Linked DNA regions of Homo sapiens: region 2 is linked to region 1. Evidence: fine-mapped expression QTL. A gene starts in region 1. The other region holds a variant in brackets. All regions are shown on one strand. Distances are from middle to middle.

The links. PIP is the estimated chance that this variant, and not a neighbour inherited with it, causes the effect.
Region 2: its variant is fine-mapped to the expression of SZRD1 in whole blood (INTERVAL, PIP above 0.99).

What each region holds. Positions count from the first base shown.
Region 1 is chr1:16,365,686-16,368,598 of GRCh38, forward strand. SZRD1 (SUZ RNA binding domain containing 1) reads left to right here and starts at 1,557. Exons shown (of 4, transcript NM_001114600.3): 1 at 1,557-1,623. The coding sequence starts at 1,573. RefSeq lists enhancers at 1,254-1,313, 2,064-2,353.
Region 2 is chr1:16,325,442-16,328,354 of GRCh38, forward strand. The region is part of intron 1 of FBXO42 (F-box protein 42); the gene reads right to left. Among named protein-coding and RNA genes, the nearest start is that of FBXO42, 26 kb to the right of the region's middle. The variant GGTGATGTTTTT/G (reference allele first, on the strand shown) is at 1,291.

The DNA of each region.
Region 1 (2,913 bases):
AGCTAACCCTTAGGACTCTTACTATGGGTCAGGCACTGTTCTAGGCATTTCAGCATAGTAACTGGTTAAATTCTTACAATCTACTTTTGAAGTAGCTATCTCTAATGTATACACTTGGGGAACTGAGACATAGAATCCTTATGTAACTTGCGTTAAGATCACACAGCTTTTTTTTTTTTTTTTAGTAGAGATGGGCTTTTGCCTCGTTGCCCAGGCTGGTCTCAAACTGCAGGGCTCAAGCGATCCCCCCGCCTCACCCTTCCAAAGTGCTGGGATTATAGGCGTGAGCCACCATGCCCGGCCACATAAATAACTTTTTTTTGAGATAGAGTTTTGCTCTTGTTGTCCAGGCTGGAGTGCAATGGCGCAATCTTGGCTCACTGCAACCTCCGCCTCCCAGGCTCAAGCGATCTTCCCGCCTCAGCCTCCCGAGTAGGTGGGATTACAGGCATGTGCCACCATGCCCAGCTAATTTTGCATTTTAAGTAGAGACGGGGTTTCTCCGTGTTGGTCAGGCTGGTCTCGAACTCTTGACCTCAGGTGATCTGCCCACCTTGGCCTCCCAAAGTGGGATTACAGGTGTGAGCCACTACGCCTGCCCTGACATAAATAATTTTTTTTTTTTTTGAGACAGAGCCTCACTCTGTCGGCCAGGCTGGAGTGCAGTGGCATGATCTCGGCTCACTGCAACCTCCACCTCCCTGGCTCAAGCAGTTCTCCTGCCTCAGCCTCCGGAGTAGCTGGGATTATAGGCGTGTGCCACCATGCCCAGCTAATTTTTGTATTTGTAGTAGAGACGGGGTTTCACCATGTTGGCCAGGCTGGTCTTGAACTCCTGACCTCAGGTAATCCGCCTGTCTCGGCCTCCCAAAGTGCTGGGATTACAGGCGTGAGCCACCGCGCCTGGCCAGTAATTTTTAGAGGTAATACTAACGTATTTATCTACCATTAAAGACCCAGGAGAACTTAGTAGCTGGGAATCCCACTGGTTCTCCCAACTGAGGTGCAATATTATCTTTACCGTCTTTACCTTACGGTAGCGGATATAGTGTTAATAAATGATTAGAATACTGCTTTATGAGCAGGAAATACTGTAATGATTTTCACCCTATCAGAAATAATAAAATGTTTTCTGCATCAGCAGATATTTTTCATCATTTGTTGGTGTTTAAAAATGTTTTCAGAATTCTGAAGATACCATTATCTGTAGTTTAGGAAAACTACGACTCACTTTAAAAGAAAAAAAGTTTTCTTTAATTGCCTGCCCTTAGAAAAGATGGTTCCACAGAACACACTTCCGGTACTCGAGATGAGGACTTCCCTTGAACGCCCATTCTGTAAGACAGATAACGCGTTGGCCCTTAAGAAAGATGGCATCTTTCCGCCTTCTCTGCCCCCTTCCAAGATGGCTGCCCTAATGTACACTTGGGACCTTGCCTGGCGCCTCTTCCGGGCTTGGCAGCGGGCGGGGTCCATTGAGTAAAGCCTTGCGTGCCTGCGCCCGCGACGGAGGCGCGCTTCAAAGCGCAGGCGCGGGGAGGGGGTGGGGGAGGAGGGAAAGCGGCGAGTAAGATGGAAGATGAGGAGGTCGCTGAGAGCTGGGAAGAGGCGGCAGACAGCGGGGTAAGGAGGAGCCGCCGTCCCATGGCAGGGCCGGGCGAGACCTGGCGTGAGGGGAGCCTCCGGGGAGCGGGTCTGGAGATAGTTCTCCCCAAGGAAGGGCCCCATACGCCGGGCTGGGGGTGGTGGAGAGGCCCCCAGTTCCTGAGCGCCGTGAAGGCCTCTTAAAGGGGCCGCGATCCATTTCTCTCCTTTCCTTTGCCTGGTGCGCCTCCCTCCGCCCACTAACGCGCGCGTCACCCGGGGCGCCCCACCCGCCACCCGGGGCCTCCTTTCCTGACCCCCCGCGCCCACTTGCTGGCCGTGGGCCTCTGTGACTCTTTCCGATGAGCCTTGTGGCCCGAGGCACCATTTTAAAGTTCTTGTGCTCTGACCGGGACGGACACACCATGTGGGTGGTGGTGGGGCTTGCGCGGACCAAGGAGGCATGTCCGGCTTCGCAGGAAAGCGGGAGGAGGCAGCCGAGGGCGGGGGGAAATTGAATCCTCTTTGGGCTACTCAACTCTGCTAAAATCCCCCACCATCCGTCACGGTGGACGAGTCGGGTTTTTTTTCTCTTTCACTTTTACTCCAAGAAGAGTTTGTGGGCAGGCAGGCAGGTCTCACGGGGACTCTGCCAAAGCAACCGAAAGCTCTGCGGGGCAGCTCCTCTGCCACTCAGCGATCCGAGGCCCCGGGAAGGTCTAGGAGTTCGCTTGTCGGAGTCCAGGGTGTGATATGTAAAACAGCCACATTCTTGGGAGAGGAGTGGGGAGATGGACCGTTCGACTTGTTTTTGGAGTTTTTGTTTGCCTCCAGAAACTGTAGGAAAATAGTTTATCTCAAAGAGGATCTGTCAATTCTCTTAGATTTGTGAATAATTTGGTCTTTTCAGAGTTTGTCTGTGGTGACCCTTGTGAATATGGGGAGATGCTTTTTTTGTCTCCCCGTGTTCGCGTCTGTTCAATGCTGGCTGCACTGACATCCACCTTAAAGGTTTACGTGTGCGAGGAGTCGAGCGTACCAGGGTAGAGTAGGCGCTGGGTTTTTTTTCCTAAGCGCTTTTTGGGGGTGCTTATGAGCTCTGGAAGAGGCCGGGAAATTGACCCTGGCAGCAGTCAGTGGGTGTATCTAGCTCTACGGGAATGTTGAAACTTGGCTTTGAAGTTTTTTCCGCTGGTTCAGCATTTCTCTCAACGGTTGTTTATGTTTTTCCATTTAGCATAATTGAGAATTTGAAGGATTCGTTCGTTCAGAGGATATTTAGTAGAGTTCTTAATGTGACAACCATCTTTCTTGAGTTTTGGCTTAAGA
Region 2 (2,913 bases), 40 kb before region 1:
CCATTGTTGCTATTAGCAAACTGTGAGCTATTATGACAAATTCAGGAAGCTATTTTATAAAGCATACCAAATTTCATAACAGATACCAGCTGCAGTTTTTAAAAATGGTGAACTCATTAGTGTGCTACCCAATTAAGATTCCCTTAATAAAACAGAAAAAATTTAAAAATGGAAAAATAAAGTATTCCACAAACTACCCATCAATATACTTTCTTTTTTTTGTTGTTTTGTTTTTGAGAGAGTCTGGCTTTGTCACCTAGGCTGGAGTGCAGTGAACTCACTCGAGCGATTCTCCTACCTCAGCCTCCAGAGTAGCTGGGATTATAGGCATGCGTCACCACGCCCAACTAATTTTTGTATTTTTAGTAAAGACAGGGTTTCACCATGCTGGCCAGGGTGGTCTCAAACTCCTGACCTCAGGTGATCTGCCCACCTCGGTCTCCTAGAGTGCTGGGATTACAGGCGTGAGCCACCACACCTGGCCGAAAATTTCATATGGAGAACCATACGTTTTAAATTCAGCAAAATGCTTTATTTGGTAGAAAGGTAAAATGGAACTTCAGTGCCCAAATTTGTGTGTGTGTGTGTGTGTGTGTGTGTGTGTGTGTCTGTGTGTGTCTGTGTGTGTTTTGAGATGGAATTTCGCTCTTGTTGCCCAGGCTGGAGTGCAATGGCACGATCTCGGCTCACTGCAACCTCCACCTCCTGAGTTCAAGCGATTCTCCTGCCTCAGCCTCCCAAGTAGCTGGGATTACAGGCATGCACCAGCATGCCCGGCTAATTTTGTATTTTTTCGCAAAGACGGGGTTTCTCCATGTTGGTCAGGCTGGTCTCGAACTCCCGACCTCAGGTGATCCATCTGCCTGGGCCTCCCAAAGTGCTGGGATTACAGGCATGAGCCACCGTGCCCAGCCTCTTTATTGTTAATACAACTACTCGAGTTTTAAAATTTCTTCTTGAGGCCAGGTGCAGTAGTTCATGCCTGTAATCCCAGCACTTTGGGAGGCCAAGGCAAGTGGATCACTTGAGTTCAGGAGTTCAAGACCAGCCTGGGCAACATGGTCAAACTCCATCTCTACAAAAAATACAAAAATTAGTGGGGTGTGGTGGTGCACACTTGTAGTCTCAGCTACTCAGGAGGCCGAAGTGGGAGGATCACTTGAGCCCAGGAGGTAGAGGTTGCAGTGAGCCAAGATCACACCACTGTATTGCAACCTGGGCAACAGAACCAAACCCTGTCTCAAAAAAAAAAAAAAAAAGAAAAAAATTATTCTTGAGTTAATTCTGATA[GGTGATGTTTTT/G]TCTAGGATTTATAAGTCATCTAAAACACGTAAGCCAGAATCAACTACACCTTTCATTACTCACATAATTTAAACAAACAACTAATAAAACATGGAGATGAGCTACATAAATGTCATCTAAGTAATGGCTAAAGGCCCTTAAACAAGATAGGTCTGCTCTGAAAACATTCAGTTTACTATGAACCATTTAATCTTCCTAATCCCAAAAGGTGTCAACCAGGAAGCCTGCTCACTTACACAGCACCATCTCTCTCTCACCATCTCTCTCTATGACCCACTTCTAAATGTCATTTTAACTTCCTTTTTTCCCCATTAGAGTGTACACTACTTGAGAGCAGAGACTAAGCCATATTATCTTTGTACATCTGGCACATTAGTAGACACCTTAACAATATCGGTACTTTTTTGATGAAGATCATAAAGTACCTTACTGACGAGGGATGTTAATGACTCACTTACGGTTGCAAAGTATACTCTTGAGGTGTTCAGTGTTGAAAGACTTCACTGAACCGTACTTTCACATGGCCTTGCTTATGACCAAAAGCACAAAGCCATCTGTAAGACAGTTCATCTTAGTTGGGAGTAGAGCATAAAATGTATTTTTCTTCACTGACGAATTAACTGAAATAAAAACAAATCTTAAGCAAAGGCATAATTACACTTTTATGTAAATGTGCAATACTGTCAGAAGCCTAGCTGAAAAACCAAAAAGTAAAACAAAACAAAAATGCTAACTTTTAATCGTGGTAAGTCCCAGAAGAAAAACATTAAAAGGAGTTCAAAATTAGAAAGATAAATAGATTCAGAGTTAAAGATAGAGCCTAAACTATTTTGCCCAAACCATTCAATTCTTTAAAGCATTTTAAAATCCAAGTAACACAGAAAAGTGACCATCCTAAGAGTAGAGCTTGATGAATTACTGCAAAGTAAACACAATCTCATTTATTTTAAGATGGGAAAGTTTTTGTTTTGTTTTTTAAGACGGAGTCTCGCTCTGTTGCCCAGGCTGGAGTGCAATGGTGCAATCTCTGCTCACTGCAACCTCTGCCTCCAGGTTCAAGCGATTCTCTCACCTCTGCCTCCCAAGTAGCTGGGACTACAGGCACACACCACCACACCCAGCTAATTTTCGTATTTTAGTAGAGACTGGGTTTCACCATGTTGGCCAGGCTGGTCTCAAACTCCTGACCTCAAGTGATCCGCCCACCTTGGTCTCCCAAAGTGCTGGGATTACGTGTGTGACCCACTTTGCCCAGCCAGGACAGTCTGAAACAATCAAAATGATAGACATATCCAAGTCACGCAGCTTATACTGACAAGTGCCACTGTGAGAAATTCCAAGGTTTTCTATAAAACTGGTAAGACTCAAAGCTCACAACCCACATTTGTCAAAACCCACAGCATCAAAGAGTGAAATTTAATACATGTAAATTTTTAAAAAAAACCACTTACTCAGGAGGCTGGGGGATCCTAGATTATGATAAAACAATCCAACTATATTACAAATATATGAGACCACCTTGGGTGGAGGAAAAGGTGTAACCTAAGTAACTTTGGAAATAAGGGGCATCTATAAAACTAAAGGCAAAAGAAACTTCATATAAGCACTAGT